7 separate regions of the Homo sapiens genome follow, and all the other regions are reported to be linked to region 1. Evidence: microRNA targets listed by miRTarBase, many of them from high-throughput screens and not tested one by one. Region 1 holds a microRNA gene; each other region holds the end of a gene's coding sequence.
Evidence for each region. The annotated mature microRNA hsa-miR-6512-3p reads UUCCAGCCCUUCUAAUGGUAGG and lies in region 1 at 1,965-1,986, opposite strand. An mRNA with a match to its seed (bases 2 to 7 or 8) in the 3' UTR can be bound and repressed. Matches are read on the target gene's strand: a 7mer-m8 pairs with bases 2 to 8, a 7mer-A1 pairs with bases 2 to 7 and ends in A, and an 8mer does both.

Region 2: miRTarBase lists CASS4 as a target of hsa-miR-6512-3p. Seed matches in the 3' UTR shown: 7mer-m8 at 2,595-2,601.
Region 3: miRTarBase lists TERF1 as a target of hsa-miR-6512-3p. Seed matches in the 3' UTR shown: 7mer-m8 at 987-993.
Region 4: the mRNA of LCOR is a reported target of hsa-miR-6512-3p. The part of its 3' UTR that is shown has no 7-base or 8-base seed match.
Region 5: miRTarBase lists ZC3H12B as a target of hsa-miR-6512-3p. Seed matches in the 3' UTR shown: 7mer-m8 at 2,498-2,504 and 7mer-A1 at 979-985.
Region 6: miRTarBase lists LETM1 as a target of hsa-miR-6512-3p. Seed matches in the 3' UTR shown: 8mer at 3,027-3,034, 7mer-m8 at 1,046-1,052 and 7mer-m8 at 880-886.
Region 7: miRTarBase lists RHNO1 as a target of hsa-miR-6512-3p. Seed matches in the 3' UTR shown: 7mer-m8 at 596-602.

The regions. Positions count from the first base shown.
Region 1 is chr2:177,311,847-177,315,179 of GRCh38, forward strand. MIR6512 (microRNA 6512) reads right to left here and starts at 2,036; the gene lies at 1,960-2,036. All of the region lies in intron 6 of LOC100130691 (Putative uncharacterized protein FLJ44553), which reads right to left.
Region 2 is chr20:56,458,363-56,461,695 of GRCh38, reverse strand. CASS4 (Cas scaffold protein family member 4) reads right to left here. Exons shown (of 6, transcript NM_020356.4): 6 at 1,314-3,333. The coding sequence ends at 2,949. It also overlaps the pseudogene RPL39P. Among named protein-coding and RNA genes, the nearest start is that of RTF2, 8.6 kb to the left of the region's middle.
Region 3 is chr8:73,045,554-73,048,553 of GRCh38, forward strand. TERF1 (telomeric repeat binding factor 1) reads left to right here. Exons shown (of 10, transcript NM_017489.3): 10 at 408-2,570. The coding sequence ends at 584. Among named protein-coding and RNA genes, the nearest start is that of TERF1, 38 kb to the left of the region's middle.
Region 4 is chr10:96,984,846-96,987,845 of GRCh38, forward strand. LCOR (ligand dependent nuclear receptor corepressor) reads left to right here. Exons shown (of 8, transcript NM_001346516.2): 8 at 1-3,000. The coding sequence ends at 289. Among named protein-coding and RNA genes, the nearest start is that of SLIT1-AS1, 120 kb to the right of the region's middle. RefSeq lists enhancers at 1-400, 1-96.
Region 5 is chrX:65,502,832-65,506,164 of GRCh38, reverse strand. It overlaps ZC3H12B (zinc finger CCCH-type containing 12B), which reads right to left. Exons shown (of 10, transcript NM_001010888.4): 10 at 1-3,333. The coding sequence ends at 2,956. Among named protein-coding and RNA genes, the nearest start is that of LAS1L, 30 kb to the left of the region's middle. RefSeq lists an enhancer at 2,852-3,333.
Region 6 is chr4:1,811,287-1,814,619 of GRCh38, forward strand. It overlaps LETM1 (leucine zipper and EF-hand containing transmembrane protein 1), which reads right to left. Exons shown (of 14, transcript NM_012318.3): 14 at 193-3,287. The coding sequence ends at 3,138. Among named protein-coding and RNA genes, the nearest start is that of FGFR3, 20 kb to the left of the region's middle.
Region 7 is chr12:2,887,977-2,891,309 of GRCh38, forward strand. RHNO1 (RAD9-HUS1-RAD1 interacting nuclear orphan 1) reads left to right here. Exons shown (of 3, transcript NM_001252499.3): 3 at 1-1,548. The coding sequence ends at 483. It overlaps TULP3 (TUB like protein 3), which reads left to right and starts at 2,915. Exons shown (of 11, transcript NM_003324.5): 1 at 2,915-3,012. The coding sequence starts at 2,972. RefSeq lists an enhancer at 2,311-2,490 and a silencer at 2,761-2,810.

The sequences.
Region 1 (3,333 bases):
AAGGAAAACATCTGATAAACTAAACTAATTCAAAATTATGAATGTCTTCTTCAAAATACACTATTAAAAGAGTGAATAAAATAAGCCACAGAGTGGGCTGGGCACAGTGGCTCACGCCTGTAATCCCAGCACTTTGGGAGGCCGAAGCAGGCAGATCACAAGGTCAGGAGATTGAGACCATCCTGGCTCACATGGTGAAACCCCGTCTCTACTAAAAATACAAAAAATTAGCTGGGCATGGTGGCGGGCACCTGTAGTCCCAGCTACTTGGGAGGCTGAGGCAGGAGAATGGCGTGAACCCGGGAGGAGGAGCTTGCAGTGAGCCGAGATCACGCCACTGCACTCCAGCCTGGGTGACAGAGCAAGACTCCATCTCAAAAAAAAAAAACAAAAAACAAAAAGCCACATAGTGGCAAAAGATATTATCAATACATATACCCGACAAAGGACTCATATCCAGAATAAAGGACTATAAAAACAAGAAAAGGCAGACAAGCCCATAGAAAATCACACAAAACACATGAATAGGCATTTCACAGAAGAGGGTACCCAAATGGCCAATAAACAATTAAAAAGGTGTTTATTTGATATCAGAAAAATGAAAACAACAATGAGATTCAATACACTGCATTAGTCTTTGAAGAGAATGGCTAAAATTTAAAAGATGGAAAAGATCAAGTTTTGATGAAGATGTGAAAAACTGTTGGGCAGTACTACTCAAGCTGAACCCCATGCATCAGAGAAATTACACTTTTATATATCCAACTGAAATATGTGTGTGTGTGTGTGTTCACCAATGTTCACAGTGGCACTAGTTGCAGTAATCTCAAATTGGAAACAACCCAAATGTCCATCTTTGGTAGAACGTATAAATTGTGTTATATTCATACAATGGAATACTACACAGCAATGAAAATGAAGATACTATTATTACTCTCAACATGAATGAATCTCACAAATAGTTGAGTAGGAAAAGCCAGTAATAAAATAATACACACTGTATCATTCCATTTTGTCTAATGTTTAAAAATAGGCCAAATTGGTCTAGGGTATTAGAAGCCAAGATTACAGTCAATTTGAGGGAGGATAATGCCTAGAAAAGATAATGAAGGGAGCTTCTGGTATGGTAGTAGTTTCTGCCTCCCAATCTGGGTGCTAGCAATATGTAGGTGTGTTTACTTTATGAAAATTCATCAAGCTCTCTGATTATAATTTGTGCATTTTTCTGTCTGTATGCTATACTTCAATAAAGATAGATTTATACTGAGTTAGGAACAAAGCTCAATAACTATAATTCTAGGCTGAGCTGCTAATAGGATTTGTTAAACAATTTAAACTGTGCCAGTCAGATATAATGATGCGAAATTAGAAAGGTAAAAGGAAGAGAGAGGCTATTTCCCCTGCCTATTAGTTTTCCTTCCTTCCTTCCTTCCTCCCTTTTCTTTCTCTTCTTTCTCCTTCCTTCTTTCTCTTTCTCCTTCCTTCCTTCCTTCCTTTTCTTTCTCTTCTCCTTCCTTCCTTCCTTCCTCTTCTTTCCCTTCCTTCCTTTCTCTCTCTCTCTTTTTACCTTCCTCCTTCCCTCCCTCCTTCTCTCTCTCTATTTATTTATTTTTTGAGAAAGATTCTTGTTCTGTCCAGGCTGGAGTACAGTGGCACAATCACAACTCACTGCAGCCTAGACCTCCTGGGCTCAAGGATCCTCCCACCTCAGTGTCCCAAATGTTTGGGACTTCAGGCATGCACCAACATGCCTGGCTGCCTATTAGTTTTCACTGGTAGTTGTTGATGTACGTGCAACATTAAATGTGGTTTTTAATGACCAGACTTTCTGTGCCTCTGCATTGCCACTAACTTCATCTGTGAGAAATGACTGTGATGCCAGCAGTGGACTTTATAGCTTCCTGACCTCTAGATTGTAGCTGTGTGGACTGAACTGCGAGCCCAACAGCATCCCTCTTAATGCTCCTACCATTAGAAGGGCTGGAAGAAGGCATCTCCCTCAGCCTTCTTCCAGCTCTTCTAATGGTAAGAGCATATAATTTTTAAGCATATAATTCTTAGCATTCAGTACCTAGAGAAGTGTCTGCACTGAACCCCAACTGATATATCAGTTAATAACACAACTGATAGGTTATCTAGTAGGTTTATGGTTGGTTGTAAGAATCTTTGGGAAAGAAAATTACCATTGGCAATCCTACCACCTAGGATCATCATTATCATGGGAAAGTTCTGCTTTAGAGGCAACCTAAATCTATTTTGAGGTCCTGAAAATGCATTTACTTCACAGGATATGCTGGTTTCTGCTGCCATTCAAAAATTATTCTTAAGGCATTCTTTGTTCTCTTTTCACTAGCTAAATAATGCCGTGCTTTTAACTTTTCTTTATGTGTTCAGCAGCTTTTCCCAGTTGTGGATATTTGAAAAAAGTATTCATATAAATACTGCCTGTTCTGGTAGGATTAGCTGTCCCTTTCTTTTGGTTATATTCCCAAGTTCATTCTTGCTTATCTAACCAAAGCCCTACATTGCTGACTCAAGTTTAGTTTATGGTCCAAGCCCAGTATCATGTTACTATTAGCCAAGATTTCCCATGGGTTGAGGCAGACTTGTAGAAGATTGAAAAATAAAACTTACTGGCCATAAGTAAGACTTTTTATCTGGCCTTCCAGTACAGAACATTCTCTAATATAGCAGCTTATAAACAATGAGAATCAGAAGCCTAAAAAAATTAGTTAATAGCCAAACAGTGACTGAATCATGGAATTGTACAGTTAGAATGGACCTTAGAAGCAGTCTATATAAGCCAGGTATAGTGGCTCATGCCTGTAATCTCAGCACTTTGGGAGGCCAAGGCAGGAGGATCTCTTGAGCCCTGGAGTTTGAGACCAGCCTGGCCAAAATGGTGAGACCCCATCTCTACTAATTTTTTTAAAAAGTCTATATACATACCAGAACACAGAGCTCAGATATGTATGCAGGATTCCAGTCCGTGCTGAATACTCTTCCAGTATGAGTACTCTTCCTACTCCTCAAGGTGTGTGGCCCTCAAAGCAGCAGCATCAGCACTTACCTGGGAGCTTGTTAGAAAGCCAGAATCTCAGGCTCCAACACCCACTGAAGCAGAATTTGCATGTAACACCCCCACCCCTTCTTGATTTGTATGCATGTTGAAATTTGTGGAGTTAGAGACAAAAGCACCACAGGTGCATGTCTTACTATTTAAAGTCTTGCCTAATTATATAACATAGAAACCTGATCCCTTCTGGACAAGGCCTGTATTATTACAGGTCCTGGTCTAATAGAGTATTTGAATAGCTGGGTTAAAGAAAAAGA
Region 2 (3,333 bases), not on the chromosome of region 1:
TCTTGGAAGCTTGTGCCTGGTCTCCCCTAGATTTCACCCCGGGTACCTCTTCCCCTTGCTGATCTCACTTTGCATCTGTTCAATGTAGTAAGTCACAGCTGTGAATATGACTGTATTCTGAGTCCTGTGAATTTTCCTAGTGACTCATTGGACCTGGAGGTGGTCTTGGGGACCACTGACATAGTCTCTGATCCCAGAATCTTAGATCTTCTGTCTGCATCCATGAAATGGTGACAGGTTAACTTGTTAATTTCAAAGATGAAACCTCAGGCCCATCACAGTGCTTGAAAGAGCAATCCCGTTACCTCTCAGGACCCATGGGAGAGTGAGTGTGGGGTGGGTAGGAATTCCAGATCTAAATTAACTTGGGTGTTCCATGCCCTGCTTATCATGGAGCTTTCAGGAGCAGCACCTGATCTAAGCCAGTCCAAGCCGAATGAAGTCCTTTTCTTCTCCTCTGGCCAAGAATCAAGAAGAGTGTAACCTGGGAAAACCACCTTGCAATCATGGGGGTTAACCCAGAGCAAGTGGGACCGAGAAACTGGTCCTGGATCACACTGTTGGAGCCCCTGAAACCAGCCAGCCTTGCGGCTAGTTTGCCTCTGGATGATTTTAAGACATATGAGTTAATAAATTTCCTTTACTGCTTAAGACAGATTGGGTATGATTTTCTATCCCTTGTAAGAGAAGTCCTAACTGATGCAGATCATGGCTGTTCAAAGAATAGGCCCCCTGGAGGGCCTCTGTCCAGTTGTAGAGAACCAAGCCTCACAAAGATGGGATCCTTTTTTTAAGGACCCTGAGACTAACTTAATAAAAATAACCAGCCTCCAGCAGTCAACATTTTACAAGTGCCTACCAAGGAAAGAGTAGCAGATAGGAGTTGGACTTGGTATCATTTCAGGTGACTTACAGCCTGGAGATGCTCTTCCAAGCTGTAGAGGTGTTTATGCATTTAGGAGGCCCAGACCATCACTTAAAATGAAGTGATGATGTAACCATGGCAACGTGAGCTGAGGACTCAGCTACAAGGAGAGGAAGAGGAGGTGGTTTGAGTTGAGGGGAGCTCTGTGCCACTTTCATATCTGTGCCCAATGATGGGCATCCTGTCCACACCACGCCTTCCTGTCTGCACCACCACAGGTGATGGCTTTGTTTTCCAGCACCAATCCGGTGCCTAAGAGCAGGGCCTCTACTCCATCTCTCTGCAGACTTCAGGGAGAAGCACTGGAGTGACAAAAGTAAACATCGGAGGCTTCACTTGGGTGACACAGATCAAAGACTTTTCCAAAAAAAGAATGCTGCAAATGATGTTTAAAGTCATGATTATATTTAATATTATTAGGGTGGTGCAAAAGCAATTGTGGTTTTTGCCATTACTGTCTACGGCAAAAACCGCAATTACTTTTGCACCAACCAATATAAATTGTAACAGATTTGAGACAAAATATAAAATTTTTCAAATTGAGCAGAATTTATCAACCCAGAATCTATAATGTATGAAATAAATTAATAGAGAACCCAACAGATCATGTTATGTTGTAAATATAACATCTATCTTTAGGTTAAAGTAACATAGCAAAAATATATATTTATGGGTGCAAGACACATACATAATTTGTACCAATCTCACAGAACTAATTCAATTCAAAACAACAAAAAACTTACTCTATTATCTAATGGATGCAATAAAAATTAACCATTTGAAGATAAGTTCTCTTGCACTTCCCCTACTTACGTTTTTCCTGGCACCTGCTATACTGTGTATGTATTTCTTCACCGCTTTACTGCCTGACTCCCCTACTAGATCATAAGTTCCAAGAGGGCAAGCCCTCTGAAACACTGCTATGTCTCCAGCACCTAGAACTTGGCATGTAGTAGGCATCCAATACATAAGTGTTAAATGAGTGAATTTAAAACACGTACATGCCAGGAATGGTGGCTCAGGCCTGTAATCCCAGCACTTTGGGAGGCCGAGGCGGGGGATGGCCTGAGGTCAGGAGTTCCAGACCAGCCTGGCTAATATGGTGAAACCCCGACTCTACTAAAAATACAAAAATTAGCTCTTCCTTTCTCTGCCATTGTGGTGTGTGCTTGACTCTGCTTCTTGCCATGTCTTCTCATAAGACTTCCAGGATTAAGTGATTCCTGACCGAGAAATTAAAACAAAATCGCCCCACTCCCCAGTGGATTCAGATGAAAACTGGTAATAAAATCAGGTACAACTCCAAAAGGAGACATTGAAGAAGAACCAAGCTAGCCCTATAAGGAATTGCACATGAGAGGGCACACATATTTATGCTGTCTGAAGGTCACAGTCATGTTACCACATCAAGCTGAAAATGTCACCGCTCTCTGGAGAATTGTACATGTTTTATTGGGAATATATTTTTTCTTTCTGAATCTGTTATGAATGCATTGGTTGGCTGGGTTCAGTAATAAATATGTGAGACCTTTCATTAAAAAAAAATACAAAAATTAGCTGGGCATGGTGGCGCACACCTGTAGTACCAGCTACTCTGGAGGCTGAGGCGGGAGAATTGCTTCAACCCAGAAGGCGGAGGTTGCAGTGAGCTGAGATCGCGCCACTGCACTCCAGCCTGTGTGACAGAGTGAGACTTTGTCTCAAAAAACAAACAAAACATGCACACATTTAATCAATATAAAATATTATTTCTGCGAAGTCACTTCAAGCTGATACTGCATACTCCATATATGCTAAACTTCACAAGGTCTTTACCTCATACCTGACTCTCTTTCCTGACCCCCTGCGGGGTAAGTCAATGCCCTGGGGTTGCTTAGCCACTTGGTACTACCAGCTTTGGGCACCAGGTCTGTTTCAGCTCATTGGTGTATGCCCCGGCTGGCTTTTCCCATAGGGCAGAGTTGCACAAGTTGTGGGTGTGAAGCTGAGAGGTGAGCAGAGGAGGAAGGGAGGTAGACAGTCCTCATCCCAGTGTCCCTCTGAACTGCCGCGTGTGTTGCTCCAGCTTCTCAGCCTCCGCCTGGAGGTGCCCCAGCGCGGCAGGGCTGGGGTACGTGAGCACGGCATTCTTAGTGGCCAGCGCTACGTCCTTGAGCAGGCTGCAGAGGTGACTGCTGCCACGGAGGATCTCGTTGCGCACGTCCCTCTCCTGGGTCTCCATGCACAGCGTGTCCACCAGCTTCTGTCCCACCATGATGACCAGCTTGCTCTGAGTGATGATCTCCGCGGGCTGGCTGCTGCTGAGGCTGCCGTGAAATGCGCTGATGGCTTTGAAGAGCGCCCCAAAGTAGAGCCGGCAGTGTTCAGATAAGCGGGGTTTCCTCTCAGGAGTCTGTTGACTCGAAGGC
Region 3 (3,000 bases), not on the chromosome of region 1:
GCAGAACAGGTTTTTCACTGAGTTCATTAGTGAACTACTAAACATTCACAAAGCCTATTTGGAGATTTGGAGGATAATAAATACAACTATTAACAATTGTAGAAGAGCATTTTAAGAGACAGTGTGGGCTTAAAGTCAGACAAATTCAGTTGACATGTAGCACTGCCACTTTCTAGCTATCTGATCTTGGGCAGCTGAGCTTACATAAAATGAACAGTAATAATAATGACCCCTAAAAATGTTACGATAAATGTAAAATCTTTTAAAAATCTAAGAAATGTTTAGAGAAGTCTTCCGTCTTTAAGAAACTAAGCATTATTTTGATTTTTTAAAACTGGCATTTATAGTAGGTATTTTCTTTTTGAATAATTGTTTCTGTAAATAACTGTTTTACTTTTTATCAAAAGGCATGGCTTTGGGAAGAAGACAAGAATTTGAGATCTGGCGTGAGGAAATATGGAGAGGGAAACTGGTCTAAAATACTGTTGCATTATAAATTCAACAACCGGACAAGTGTCATGTTAAAAGACAGATGGAGGACCATGAAGAAACTAAAACTGATTTCCTCAGACAGCGAAGACTGATTGTGTTTGTAAAAGCTTGATGAAAGGACAGTTAAGTATTTTGATCACTGCATTTTGTTTGAAACTTGTGTCATTGATGTAATTTAAAACTTTTGTTTAAAGCATTACAGTATTTTTCTGTGACCATCAATTAATGAGGGTTTGTGCTACCAGAGTTAAAGCATATGCTATCATTGTATTCTTTAAGAACCTTATTTTGATAAAATGTAAATTTGTTGAACCCTGCCACATTTAGTATCCCCACCCCCAAATCCTGTTCCAATGAAAAAATTAAAACCTGATACGAAAAAAAAAAAATTCCAGTTAACCTATTTTGTGTCTGTAGGCTGACCTCAACCCTGTAACGTAACCCATTAAAATGAATTTCTTTTTTTTTAAGACAGAGTTTCTCTCTGTTGCCCAGGCTGGAGTGCAGTGGCGCAATTTCAGCTCACTGCAACCTCTGCCTCCCAGGTTCAAGTGATTCTCCTGCCTCAGCCTCCTGAGTAGCTGGGATTACAGGCACACACCACCACGCCCAGCTAATTTTTGTATTTTTAGTAGAGGCGGGGTTTCACCATGCTGGTCAGGATGTTCTCCAACTCCTGACTTCATGATCCACCCACCTCGGCCTCCCAAAGTGCTGAGATTACAGACGTGAGCCACTGCGTCCTGCCTAAAATGAATTTTCTAGATGATTGAATAACAGTAGTCCTTTGATAGAAGATAATGACTTGGTTTATGGCCTTAATATACTACTTAATTACTTAAGATGTTTATTAATAGAATGATAAATGTACAGAGTAACCTATAAGCATGACATACTTTTGCTTTCAGTAGTTTCATGTAAAGAAAAAAACTTGAAAATAGTAATACCTGAGTACCCATGGGAATAATAGACACTGGGGAGGTAGGGTGGGGAGCGGGAGCAAGAGCTGAAAAACTTACCTACTGGGGACTGTGCTCACTACCTGGGTGACAGGATCATACGTACCCCAAACCTCAACATCACACAGTATACTCAGCTAACAAACCTGCCCATGTGTTTCCTGAATCTAAAATAAAAATCGAAATAATTTTTTTAAAAAAGAAAAAGACAATAGTATTACCCATGGGACAAAATTTGTACTATTAGCAAGAATCATTTTGTGTCTCATTTAGAAACAATTTGACTTTTGTTCCAGTGTTTAAACTTTGACAAAAATGGTTTTGAATAGATCTTTATAACCTGATGCCATAAATACAAGATTCTCTGATACCTTCATTTAATATATCAATATTGGGCCTAAAACAGTATTCTGTAAAGCTTAAATTGGTATTAACTATGATCATCTTGATGTCTATGATAGATAATAAACAAGGTCATACATACCTTACTAAACAATTTTGGTTTTTCACCAACATTTTATTCTTTAAAAGATTTAGACTAACAGAATTATTTAGCATTTCGAGTCATGTGCTTTATTTAGCAAGTGAGTAAAAATATTGGAATATTGAAGTATTTGCATAAAAAATCAAATGGTGGTGTTTTGTAATCTCTATTGTATTTCCTATTAAGGTTTCATATATTACTTTCCCATTGTTCCTGAATTTGTTATCCTATATATAAACAGAAACATGGATGAGTACCATATACTTCCTGACTCCTTTATCTTGTTACACCACAAGATACTGCACTATTTATTGGAGATATTTTGATGATTAGTGCCAAGGCTGGCATCATGAGCCAAAATAGACTTGTTAAGTCAACCTCATTCCAAACACCTGCTATAGATCATCAAATCTAAGTTGCCATTAATTGTAAGATGTCCTGTTATTTCACACACACAACTAGAAAAGAAAAATCGGTATCAATTATAGTATGGTGCTTTCTTATTTTGAATTTTACTTATTAGAAGAGCTATTTTAGATGTATTTAAACATAAGATTTTTATCACATAACTTGTGGATACAAAAAAAGAGAAATTGTAAGCAAAATAAGTTGGGTAATATATTCCTAAAACCTCATCTTCTCCAGTCTGAGTATTTTTTTGAATCCTTTTTTTTGGTTTTGTTTTGTTTTGAGACAGGGTCTCACTTCATTGCCCAGCCTGGAGTGCAGTGGCACAATCACAGCTCACTGCAGCCTCTACTTCCTGGGCTCAGGTGATTGTCCTACCTTGGCCTCACAAGTAGCTGGGACTACAGGCATGTGCTGCCACTCCCAGCTAATTTTTGTATTTCTTTGTAGAAATAGGGCTTCTCCATGTTTCCCAGGTTGGTCACAAACTCCTGGGCTCAAGAGATCCATCCACCTCAACCTCCCAAGGTGTTGGGATCACAGGCATGAGCCACTGAGCCCTGGCCCCTGAATTCTTTTTAGTCAGAATTTCTGTTGAGGTAATGTAAATTCACATGCAATTGTAAGACATAATATAGAGATCTCTGTACACTTGGC
Region 4 (3,000 bases), not on the chromosome of region 1:
GTCCGCTGGGAAGAGCTGCCCTCCCTCCAGGAAAGAAAAAGAGAATACAAACAAAAGGCCTTCCCAGTCTATTGCCTCGGAAACACTGACGAAACCTGCAAAACAGAAGGGGGCCGGTGAATCCTCTTCAAGGCCTCAGAAAGCCACGAATAGGAAGCAGAGTAGTGGAAAGACTCGGGCCAGACCCTCAACGAAAACCCCAGAGAGCAGTGCAGCTCAGAGAAAGCGAAAGCTGAAGGCAAAGCTGGACTGTTCGCACAGCAAACGGAGGCGGCTGGATGCAAAGTGATTGGAAAGATGGTAGCCAAGAGTAAAACTGTTCTATAGAAGTAACCTTTTATTTTGCATTAACTAAATCTGCTTTTATAAGCTTATCAAGCCTTTCAAATTTACAGTTAATGGAGAACACCGTAATTTGAGATGTCAGAAAATGCATCTCAGATGGAGAAGGGAACTTGCAGAGTCCTTCTCTGAGGCTAAGGGAAGTTATATATTATATTCTGGTTGTTCCTTGGGTTTTAAACTTGGAACCAAGCAGTTTTCGTTTTTAAAAGTACAGTGCCTTATTTATCCTTTTTGTTTTTAAATTTACAAAAGCTAAAAAGCTGATCTATGTGATTAAAGGCTTGTATTTTATACTTGATGCACAAGCACTTGTACTGTAGCCGAGAAGACCACCATCATGCACATAAAAGGAGCTTTTCAGCAGCCACCCTGCAGCATCTGCCCACGAACAGATGCCCTTCTTTGCAAACCCCAGCAGTGAACTTCCCTCTCTGTCTTGTTTGTTTGTTTAGATGATGTTTGAAAGCTAAACCAAATCATTTTATGGTATGCAGAGGATTTATAATTATAAAAGATTACTATTTCTGTTACCCCCTTTTAAAAAAGATCATGTTCATTGTTGGTCCCTCCTCTCACCTTTGATGTTTTGTCATTTGAGAGCATGTATTCTAAATTATGTGCCCATGGGACAAGAGATATGTCACAAGTGTTAATTTTTGTTTACAAACTCTAAAAAATCATTTGCATCCCCAAACTGTATTACTAATTCTCACCATCTTCTTCATTTCTGGTCTTGCTAGCACTCCTGCAAGGCTTCCATCCTACTTCGGGAGGAAAAAGCCTAGGATTTTTTTTTTCCATCTTGTAGCTGTAATTTGATGATTAGGATGAAAATGACTCTTATTTTCTTTCTTACCCAGAGTACTTCCATATTCAAAGAAAGCCGAACTATTATTTCCAGTAATAGAAAGGTTTAAGAATATGTATGTCCATGTGTGTTTGGGTGCATTTGCATGTGGTTATCAGCCACAAATGTCTCCCAATCCCAATTTTACAGTAAAATTTTTTCCCTATGCAGTGTGCTTGGGTGTCCCTGAGTTGAGTAATTAGCAAAGGACAGATGGTTTAAAAGTAGCCCAGTGTCTCTGTGAGCATCCCCAATACCACTTTGGTACCAGACTCAGAAAGATCTAAAACAGCATGGAGTTATGTAAAGGTTAGAGCAGCCTTGCAGTTGGAGGAAGCAGCTCCAGCATCTGTGAAGAGCCCACACACCCCCTACACCCAGAGCTGATGTTCAGCTGTATGCTCCAATGTGAATGTACTTGTTGGAGTAGACGTTCATTCTGATTGATTAACACCATCCTAGTAGTTAAATGCTTGTAGTATCACTCCTGCCATGTCATGTCAGGCTCTATTCCGTGTCTCAGAAGTGAGAGCCACAATGTTTTAATGACTTTGTTTGCCTTTCCCAGGTGAAGCCTGAGACAGGCGCATTGGCTTCAACCTAGTGCCTGTGACCTTGCTCCATTATTATAGTGCAGCGTGTACTTGACTTTTCCATTGGGCCGCTCTACAAAAAAAGGCTTGGTTGTTGAAGCCTCAGTCAGCTTCCTTAACCGGTTCTGTCACCAAAATCAGCTTGTATGGACAGCTGCTGCCCTGTCCTTTTTATTTGAAAATTTTCCATTTAGGTTGTTTCAGATCTCTTTAGATAAGCCCAGATGGACTTTTTTCATGCAAATCATGATAATACAGGCCTTCTACCCATTCTGTTAAAGGTTTGCTGTATATCATGGGAACTTCTGATGATTGGATAAGACTGGAGAAAAGTATTTGATTTGTGAGAAATTTAGAATTGTGTTGAATTTCATAGCTAGAGAAGCTTGCTGTCTTATGAAGCCCTGATTTTTTTTCATGTCTTCTCTATCTGATGAGTCTTTTTCTTTTTAGTATCTTTGACTTTGGCCATTCAAGAGCTACCTACATTAATAAAACTGCTGAGTGTGTATGTTGGCAACCCTTTCTCAGCATTAAGTTGCACAGAGGCATTAATGTGTTTTGAATAGGTTCATTTAATCTTAAAAAATGGTTTTAAGGTTTTAAAAATGTCTTTTCATATAGTTGTCACTGGATATTGTGTTTGTGGTGACTTAAACAGCTGATGTTTGCCAATGTCAGGCATGCTGATTCCTGTACAGAAGAGGTGCCCCGTTGGCTGCATACCGACTACCTTGTAAGGTGCTTGGATTAGGTTAGGGAGAGGTGTAAGGTAGTAAGTGGGTGGAACTTTTCCAGTTCCAAGTTTGTAATTCATTCCATTCCTTTTCTAAGTTCTTTTTCATTTTTAAAAGCTCAGTTAAAGATAATAGCCTTCTTTCCCATTCTAGGCTGTGTGTGAGAAAAGGTGTTAATGTGTATGTATGTATTTTATATACCTAACAATGCAATGGATCATCTTTAAAATCAACTTATACTTTATAATAAGGACATTTAAATAGACCAAGAGTCTACATAATTATGACACTTAAAAGTTTAGAATTTTTTATATTTGTTGAATCTCATTTTTGCTGATTCAGTTAATTTTGTTAATAGAAGAAAGAAAACAGCAAAACTTGAGGGCTAATCCTGCAAGGCCCTTTGATACCTACAGCAGGTACTGGCAAAGCAGTTTCCCAGATACCTCCAAGCTCAGGTGTGGTATTGACTCAAGTC
Region 5 (3,333 bases), not on the chromosome of region 1:
AAAGAGGCCTTGAAAAATTGTTTTTGTCTATAAATTACTACTGCCCTTTAGAAATAAAAGCTCCCTCACAACCCCTGAGCTACTTCCCTGTGACACACAGTGCCACAAACCTCATGGTGAAAATTCAGTGCCAAACCTAGCTTCAGATGAGTTTTGTACATTTGTTTCTATACAATCAGGAAAAAAAGAGATACAATTTGTATCAACAAAAGGTCATTTCTGGTTATTTGAGGCATTGCTCCTAGCCGCTTTTGGTTCATACCAAAAAGAAGAATGAGAGGAGAATGACAATCGTTTTTAGTAAATCAGAAATACATATGCTGCCTTAAAAAATATTTTCTGTATTGGGAGGAGCTTACACAGTTTCTGAGTACTAAATATGAACATGTTCAAGACGAATTGTAGGTGACAAGATGAATCTTGTGCTTCTCTGTAAATTGTACAGCTAGTGGATAGTGTGGTGCCATTCATGATCTTGGTAGGAAGATGAACTAACTGGCACATAGGCAGTAGCATCATCTGAGATTGTCAAATACCCTGATTTAGACACGAGTCCGATTTAGAAAGTCCAAGAAGTTGAAGGTATGAAATGGTGTTTGTGTGAAATAGCAAGCACTGCAGTGGCAACTGTCACTCTGTGGATCTACCTGATTGATAGAAAATACTTTTACTCTTTTTCAATATGCTGGGGTATACGAAGATCAGAAGATAGGAGATAGAATGTAAAGCTGTGGTTAACTCAAGTGAAACATTGGTTAAGATGCAGTATTGATCAACTTGGACAGAGACAGAAAGCCAGAAAGCAGCATGCAAGCCATTGTCAAACCACCAGAAACAACCCTGACTACAGCCTCACATTCAGAGTGTTTCACAGTAAGAAACATTTATAGGCAGTGTCACACCTTCTCATGAAGAAACAAAAGGCCAAGGCCCGGCCTTCTCAACTTTCATGAAAAAACGATCATAGAAGTTAGCAAGTTCCAGCTCAGGAAATAGTGAGCTGATCATGGTTCGAAATATTGAAATATACAATGGATTCAAAAAGGGAATTCATTTAGTGCAGCTTAAAAAAAACAATAAACACCTCTTCTAGAGGCATTTAGCTATGAAGTTTTCCACCCTGAGCAAGATACAAGTTGCGCAAATGGTGTCGCCCAAACCAAAAGTCCTGCCTTCTAATAACTCATTTAACAATTATTTAACAGCAAGTGCACTCTTTGCATGGATTTAAAGTGAGTAACTGAGCCAGCTATTAGTAAAGATGCAGTATCCCCTTTTGGAAACTTCCTTTTTCCACAAATAAAATCCCCTGGTTTTGTTTCCTAGAGAAATTCTGTTCCACCAATGATTGACCTTATTACCCAAAGGGTGGACAGGAAGAGAAAGTGGATACATGGCTGTGCACTGTCCTCCATTACATTTCATCCAATGATGTTGAATACTGCATAGGTCAGAAGTCCAAAGAGCATCCAATAGTCCCTCCTTGAGTGAAGCTTTTTTATTCACCATTTAATGCCACATGGGTTTGGCCATCTCTCCTGGGATAAGGGAAGTGGATTGTGGTAGTAAGTCCCCTGGTCCTTGTCAAACTCTTCTGAGCTTGTGTAGCACACACATACTATGCTTGGAACTTGAGCTTAACCATCAGTTTCTCTGCAGAAGACTGCAACCTGATCCCTAATTTGCTAAGGTGAAGAGACTTGGAAGGTAAGAACTGTTAATAAATGTTGGCAGGTAAAATGTGCAAAGGAAACAGAGTTGCTTTGCTCTGGTGCCTAAGAAAGCAATGTTCAAATATTGCCATATAATTTCTCTCTCATAACTAGTTAAAACTATGAAATGTGACTTAAAATCATCAAGTCAGATTAGTGACCTATACAGCTATAGACGAAGGACTGTGTAGAGCCTACCCTCTCATTATCACTATATAAAAGGTTATACAGAGATACACACACATCTCAAACCAAATATATATATTCATACATGCAATATAATTGCTAATAATAGCTTTAAAATATAGTTCTAGAAGCTTCAATGTGACCCTATAGTTTCATTAATATAGATTGAGTGATCAGATATCCATGCAATAAAGTATGCATTTACTTTTAAATAGCTTTAAATATTTCTATTAGAAAAAACCTAAAAGGTTAATTCAACATATGATCTGATCCTGATGCTTTTGCTCTCTAAATTGGATATATCATCCATACTTTGTAATATAGAATATGTGACTACGAAAACTCTGGTAGGCTGGGCGCAGTGGCTCACACCTGTAATCCCAGCACTTTAGGAGGCCAAGGTGGGCGGATCACTTGAGGCCAGGAGTTTGAGACCAGCCTGGCCAACACGGTGAAACCACGTCTCTACTAAAAATACAAAAATTAGCTGGGCATGGTGGTGCACGCCTGTAATCCCAGCTACCTGGGAGGCTGAGGCCATAGAATCACTTGAACCCTGGAGGTGGAGGTTGCAGTGAGCAGAGATAGTGCCACTGCACTCCAGCCTGTGTAACAGAGTGAGATTCTGTCTCAAAAAAAAAAAATAAAGAAAGAAAGAAAGAAACGAAAAGAGAAAAAGGAAAACTCTGGTAATGGAATCCTCTGGGATTTCTTACATCTAGACCTCTCCCCCTGGGTTTTGTCCTCCATTACCTGCATGGTGCAGTGCAAAGGGGCATGGGACTTGGATTTAGAGGACTTGGGTGTGTGTCTTGACTTAGTCATTTGCTAGCAGTGTGACCCTGGCTAGCCACTTAATTTCACTGACCTTCACCTTCCTTCTCTATAAAAGAGGATGTTAGTAAGACGTACCTCACAGGGTTGTTAAGCGCTTAAATGATATAAACACTCTAACTTGTAAAGCGCAACACAAATTATTAGTTACTATAATTATTGTATTAGTGTATTATTAGTATTAATATTCATATTTGTATAAAGAAATAAGTACTATGTCATATCAACGTGCAGCCCTAAGCTTAGCAACAATCAAGGCTGCCAGTTGCTGGGCATCTGCTGTGTGGGGATTCTTCTCCATCACTGCAAGGACGATGTTAGAAGGGAAAATATTGCAGAGGTTCTTGTAGGTCTGATACTGGTGTTCTGGGATCATATGCTCCCTGGAATCATTGCACATTCCAACCCAAGGATTCCTCCAAAGCTGCTCCATCTTTTCAGGCACGCTCCGTACCATGACTGGCTCATAACATGGTTGCATGAGGCTGTTACTCAAGGGATAGGAGTGGTAGCCATAGGAGTCAGTTGTACAGGGCAGCGGGTCCCAGCTGGCATGCTGTTCCCGGCACAGGGGAGGTCGTCTTTGCCTCACGGGGTTGCT
Region 6 (3,333 bases), not on the chromosome of region 1:
TGAAGCCAAGGGCTGAACCCATGGAGGGCGGCCCAGCACTCAAACCCCCAGGGATGGTGAGGCTCCTTCTGGAACTGGCCTCACAGCCACACGCGCCCCAAGGCCCAGCCCCTGCAGCCACGTGGACAGCTCTGCCGGCTTCCACTCGCTCCTGTGTGCCCAACGGTTCAGAAATATTATTACTCTGCACTGTTACAGGAACACAGATTTGATGTTTTAATAAAAATACGATTTCTACAAAAGGTGCTTAACACGGCCCAGGACGGGCTGTCCGGTGGAGTCAGCCGTAGGACCCCTGAAGGATTTACAAAGACAGAGCCGGCTCACCAGCACACTCCTGCCAGCACCGGGACCCACTGCGAACAAAGACAGAGCCGGCTCCCCAGCACGCTCCTGCTAGCCCTGGGACCCACTGTGAGCCACTGCGGGGTGTCCTTCATTTAAAAAAAGTCTGGACTGTGACACTGCAGAAGGAGTCTGAAAGCCCAATTCCTGAATCCCTGCGTTAGAACTGAGAGTTCAGGCCGGGCGCGGTGGCTCATGCCTGTAATCCCAGCACTTTGGGAGGCTGAGGCGGGTGGATCACCTGAGGTCAGGAGTTGAAGACCAGCCTGACCAACATGATGAAACCCCATCTCTAATAAAAACTTGCCCGTAATCCCAGCACTTTGGGAGGCCGAGGTGAGTAGATCACGAAGTCAGGAGATCGAGACCATCCTGGCTAACACGGTAAAACACTGTCTCTAATAAAAATACAAAAAAATTAGCCAGGTGTGGTGGCGGGTGCTTGTAGTCCTGGCTACTCGGGAGGCTGAGGCAGGAGAATGGCGTGAACCCAGGAAGCGGAGCTGGCAGTGAGCCGAGATCACGCCATTGCACTCCAGCCTGGGAGACAGAGCAAGACTCTGTCTCAAAAAAAAAAAAAAAAATTAGCTGGGCATGGTGGCGCATGCCTGTAATCCCAATTACTCAGGAGGCTGAGGCAGAAGAATCGCTTGAACCCGGGAGGTGGAGCTTGCAGTGAGCCGAGATCGCACCACTGCACTCCAGCCTGGGTGACAGAGCGAGACTCTGTATCAAAAAAAAAAAAAAAAAAAAAAAAAAGTGAGTGCTTAGCTGGAGTGAGGAGGAAACACTGAATTCCTAAATCAGGAATTCGTTTCATTTTCACCAGGCGCAGATATCCTAGCTCCTGAAAAAGGCCAAGACCGAGGGTCTGGCCCTGGGCAGGTGTAAGAAAGGACTGTTTTAAGAAGCTTATTACACAAAGCTCATATTTCTGGATCCACCACTGCTTACATTTGCACCCAGACACCACTTTTAGGTGCAAGAAGAAAGGTCAGGACATAGAGAAAAATGCACACAGAACGATGAGGGAGAATGACGAGGGAGAATGACGAGGGAGCAAGCCTGCATCAGAGCACGGCTGATGTCACGGAAGCCACCAAAGGCACCCACCAGAGCCTTCCCCACCTGCAAAGCCCCTGCAGCACCCGGAGGGCAAGCTGGCTTTTGGAGGCCATGCGGAGTCCAGGGCAGAGGGGACAGTGGGATGGGCTGCCTGTTGCAGTGGCTGTTCACGTCAACAGTGCTCAGCCAAGGCAGTGAGGACGAGGATGAGAGCCGGGGCAGCTGACTGGGCCCGCGATGCCGCTCACAGGAGAGGCGTCTGCACACACCTGGCAACTGCAAGACTTGTTCTCAAGGGTAAGTACACTTGGACAAACGAACACCAGGCTACTTACACAGGGTGAGAGAATTCATAAATATTAGTTAAGGATCTAAAACAAACTTCTCAAATAACTGAAAGCTGAAAGCCTCTGGAAGCCAACTGTCCCTGCACAAAGGTTTACAATTGAGAAATATCTCCTGTTCCTATTTTGTCAAGTTTCTTTAATGGCTGAACAGAAAGAAGCTTCAAGTAATGGAGAAGGCATTGTCTGAGTGCAGCTGCTTTCCTGGACGCCTGTGCCGTTCCTGTCTTCCAAATCCTATGCTTGGAGGCCCCTGGAGGTACATTTTTGCCAGGAACCAACCTGACCTTAAAAAGATGAGTGTGACACAGCCGGCTGGGCAGGAGGATGGAGGTGCCACAGGACACCACCTGCCCACGCCCTGGCCAGCCTGGCCATGCTGCCGAGTGCGGGGAGGCCACCCCACCCAGAGGGCACAGGGCAAACCCTAAGCACGGGGGTATTGCCCTTGAAGCCCCAGGGGATGCCCTGTGCCGGATCCTCATGCCTCATTGACTAGCCTGCTTGCTGAAGGAGCCCAGGGGCCTGAGCCTGCAACACTGCAAGGGGTGAGAAGGGCATGCTGCTGTGGGCGCACTGGACTCAAACCTCACATTAGAAGCTACAAAGAACCCCAAATGCGCTTCAGAGCCCCACCAACCCCCAAGCCAGGCTCATCCCTGACACAGTGAATCCACTGCAGCCCCCGTGGGAAACTCTGTGCCAATTGACTGCTTAAAGAACTGGGGGAAATAGAAAGCCGAGAAAGAGCTCCGATACACAAGGGAAACCGCACGTGAGAACCAGCACTCCCAGCAGGGAGACGTCACTCTCCAGAGGCCACAGAGATGGCAGACACCTCTGTCTCCACAATGACCCACATCCAACTGAAAGTGTGCAGGAAGACAGGTCTATTGACACTGAAATCTAGAAATCAAGGTCCACAGGCGAATGGAGGCATCTTCAGCCCTGAGGAGGCCAGGCTGTGTCTCCTGACGCCCCTGAGGGTGGGCACAGCAGCCAGCTCTGTGTGGGCGGAGTCCACGTGGTCCTCATTCTCTTCCCTGGGGACAGGGCAGCACAGTCAGATGCTGAGACTGAGGCCACACACATGGGGGCGCCTTCCTGCCTTGGCCCAGCCCAGCTGCCTCTGGAGCCAGGAGGCCGTGGCAGCCACACCACAGTGTGGATCCAGACACGATTCTGTGGAGGGGTTCCGGGATTCCAGACAGACTGAATCTCCGTGGAATGATGAAAATTAAAATTTACTTGATTATGGAAGTCTCTGATTTATTCCAGCCAAAATATTAGATGAGCCACTGAGAATCACCACAAAGCAATCGCCCTCACGGCCCTTGCCAGGGTGACGGCACAGCAGGAGGACAGGTGCCCAGGCCAGTGGTTCTAGCTCTTCACCTCTGCGACCTCCTTCTCTGCCTTCTCTTTGGCCTTCTCCTTCTCCTCCACCTTCTCCTCTTTTTCCAGTGTTGCTACAATCTCAGCCACCTGGCTGGTGGAGATGTGAACATCTTCTTTGTCCACCAGCTCAATCACCTACACACGTGGGAAAGGGAGAGGCTCAGGTGGCTGCGCCCTACAG
Region 7 (3,333 bases), not on the chromosome of region 1:
GCGAGACACTCAAGTCGAAAACCTACCACCTCCAAGTTTCCACATCTAACTTTTGAGAGTCCGCAATCTTCCAGTTCAGAGACATTGGGGATCCCCTTAATCCGAGAGTGCCCCAGTGAATCAGAAAAGGATGTTTCCAGAAGACCCTTAGTTCCAGTGCTCAGTCCCCAAAGCTGTGGGAACATGTCAGTGCAGGCACTTCAGAGCTTACCTTATGTGTTCATTCCACCTGATATCCAGACCCCAGAGTCATCGTCTGTGAAGGAAGAACTCATTCCCCAAGATCAGAAGGAAAACAGCCTTCTAAGCTGCACTCTTCACACTGGCACTCCTAATAGCCCAGAGCCTGGACCTGTTCTGGTTAAAGACACCCCCGAGGACAAGTATGGAATAAAGGTCACATGGAGGAGACGACAGCACCTGCTTGCTTACCTCAGGGAGAGAGGGAAGCTGAGCAGAAGCCAATTCCTTGTGAAAAGCTGACTGCCATCAGTAATCTCAATAGAAAAGAGATATGTTTTCTGGAGTCATAAAGGAATTCAATTCCTAGGGTTTTTGTTTTTGTTTTTGAGATGTAATATTGCTCTGTTGCCCAGGCTGGAGTGCAGTGGTATGATCTCACCTTACTGCAACCACCACTTCCTGGGTTCAAGCGATTCTCCTGCCTCAGCCTCCCCAGTAGCTGGGATTACAGGCACCAGCCACCATGCCTGGCTAATTTTTTTGTATTTTTAGTAGAGATGTGGTTTCTCCATGTTGGCCAGGCTGGTCTCAAAATCCTGACCTCAAGTCATCTGCTGGCCTTGACCTCACAAAGTGCTGGCCCAGCCGAGATTTGTTTTCTAAGATACTTTGTGTCATGAACAGTTCAGTTTAGTGTCATGAACTATTCACTTCATATTTTTCTTGTATTAACTGTTTAAATTTTTAAAATATCTTGTAGTAACTCTTTAAAATGTATGTAAGTAAATGGCTGCAGAAAGTTTTTTTAGAGAATCCTGCTTCCATCAGTAATACAGCAATATTACCCCATCCACTAATGGTCTTTGTTTCCTTAACCACTACTCATTAATCCTTAATCACCTCATTCAAACTAATTCATTCTGCATTTTTGAGTACCAACTCTTGTCAGGCTCAGTGGCAGCTTCTACGACCTGATGGATGGAAAAAAATCAAACTCTGTGACTCTATGGTTGACTGCCACCTCTGCAACCTTGACTCATCTGCTGAAAAGGCAAGAAGAAGAAAGGGCAGCAAGCCCTGTTTTAGGGACTACATAAGATGAGGGGAGATAAGGGGGACATAGATGAGTTCTTTAGGATTGCGTGTGTTTTGAGTTTTTGTTTCTAACTGAAGAAATCTGTCAATATTAAATAGGGTGGGAAAATGGTTTCTTAGAATAACTGTTCAACTGTGTGTAAATAAGGAAAGTTTTCAATGAGTATTACTTATTGTAATTAATGCAGAAGGACTTCCCCAGTCAACCGAATGTCTCGGCCTTTTACTCAGACAAGTAGCATCTCATTAAACCCATTCATTTAGCATTCATTCAGCTGGACCTACTGTGTCAGGTCCAGCCCCAACTAGATCAAGCAGGGATTACTGTATATTTTACAGATGGGAGTTTGATGCAGAGAATGAACCATGCACAGGTCACACAGTGAGTGCACGCTGACCCAGGCAGTGTAACGGTCCACTCTCAGCGTGTGCCTCCTAAAGTACTAACTTGTAGGTTCAAAACCAATGTGGAAACAACTTTGACCTTAGAACGCCATAAAGCCATTTGTGCAGTGACTTGTCAGGACTCAGGATGTTTTGTAGGGACTATAATGTGCATGTCGGTAGGGAGAAAGGGACTGACATTTGGGGACGGGATTTATTGGAGACAAGAGTACACATTTAGACAGGGGCTCTCACGGTGGGCTATGGATGTTTGAGGAAGGCCCACAGGAGGTAGAAAGGTAGATGGAAAGAGTCTCCAGGACGGGCCCACGCCTGTAATCCCAGCACTTTCGGAGGCTGAGGCGGGTGGATCATTTGAGGTCGGGAGTTAAGAGGCCAGTCTGGCCAACATGGTGAAACCCTATCTCTACTAAAAATACGAAAAATAGCCAGGCAGTAGTGGCCCCTGCCTGTAATCCCAGCTACTCCACAGGCTGAGGCAGGAGAATCGCTTGAGCCTGGGAGGCGGAGGTTGCGGTGAGCTGAGACCGGGCCACTGCACTGCAGTCTGGGCGAGAGAGAAACCCTGTCTCAAAAAATTAAAGTCTCTGGATTCCCTCGTGTGCTTTAGGGGAGTCTGTAGAGCAGGTCTAGGAATGACCTAAAAGCTTGGGCTGGAGTAGGGGAAGCTTAAGTTCTGTGCAGTTGAAGTTCAAGGCCAGCCTATGGAAGATGCGTTTCACTGGGAGTGACTGATGGAGTGGAGAGGGTACCAGAGGGGGTCCACGAAGGCCGCTGGTATCAGGGCAGGGGCCAGAATGGGAAGCGGCAGAGGTCTGTACATCCTCACAGGGCAGACCTCGGGAAGCGCTCTGGGTGGGCTCGGTAAAAATGGCGGGGGTGCGAGGAGCCGTTGCGTGCGTGGCGGTTGGTGCGGTATAGGAGACTCCTCTGACCGGACTCGCCTGCTGGCCGCGCGGCGGGCGAGGCCCAGGCAAAAACAAAGTCTTCCCGCTCAGTACCGGCCCCGCGAGGCGCTCCAGAGGACCAAGCCTTAGCTCGCGTCACCCCACCCCCGCGCAGGCGCGTTTAACTCCCGCTCGCCTCCCGCCCCTTAGCAACCCTCCCGCATCGTTGGGCCCCGGCAATAGCCAATGAGACAGGAGCCACGAGAACACGGACCAATCGGCGGCGGCGACAGTGTGGAACGCGGTTGCCAGGAGGCGGGACGCGGCGGCGTGCCAGCCTAGCCACTCTAGCGACGGCGGGGAAGAGTGTGTACGTGGTGGGGGCTTCCTCGGTGGCGGGCATGGAGGCTTCGCGCTGCCGGCTCAGTCCCAGCGGCGACAGGTCAGACAGGGCCGTGGCAGGTCTCCTCCTGAGCGAGGCGGAGGGGCGAAGCGAGAAGGCGGAGGTCCTCTCCGGGAGCCCTGCGGGGAGAGGGCGGGACTCGGGACTTGGCGACTCAGGGAGGGACTGGTTTCGGCGGCGGGAGGCGACCCCCTCGCCCTACTCCCGTGTGGGGACCCCTTTCTCAAGTGGAGCGGCGGCACTACATCCCGCGCCGTGGGCAGAGACCTTTGGTTCAGGTCCCTGCTTAGGAACTTCTGGAGTTTTCGTGACGGGCTCCCTCGGCCCCTCTGGGCCTCGGGTTTCCCTCGGGGGAGAGGC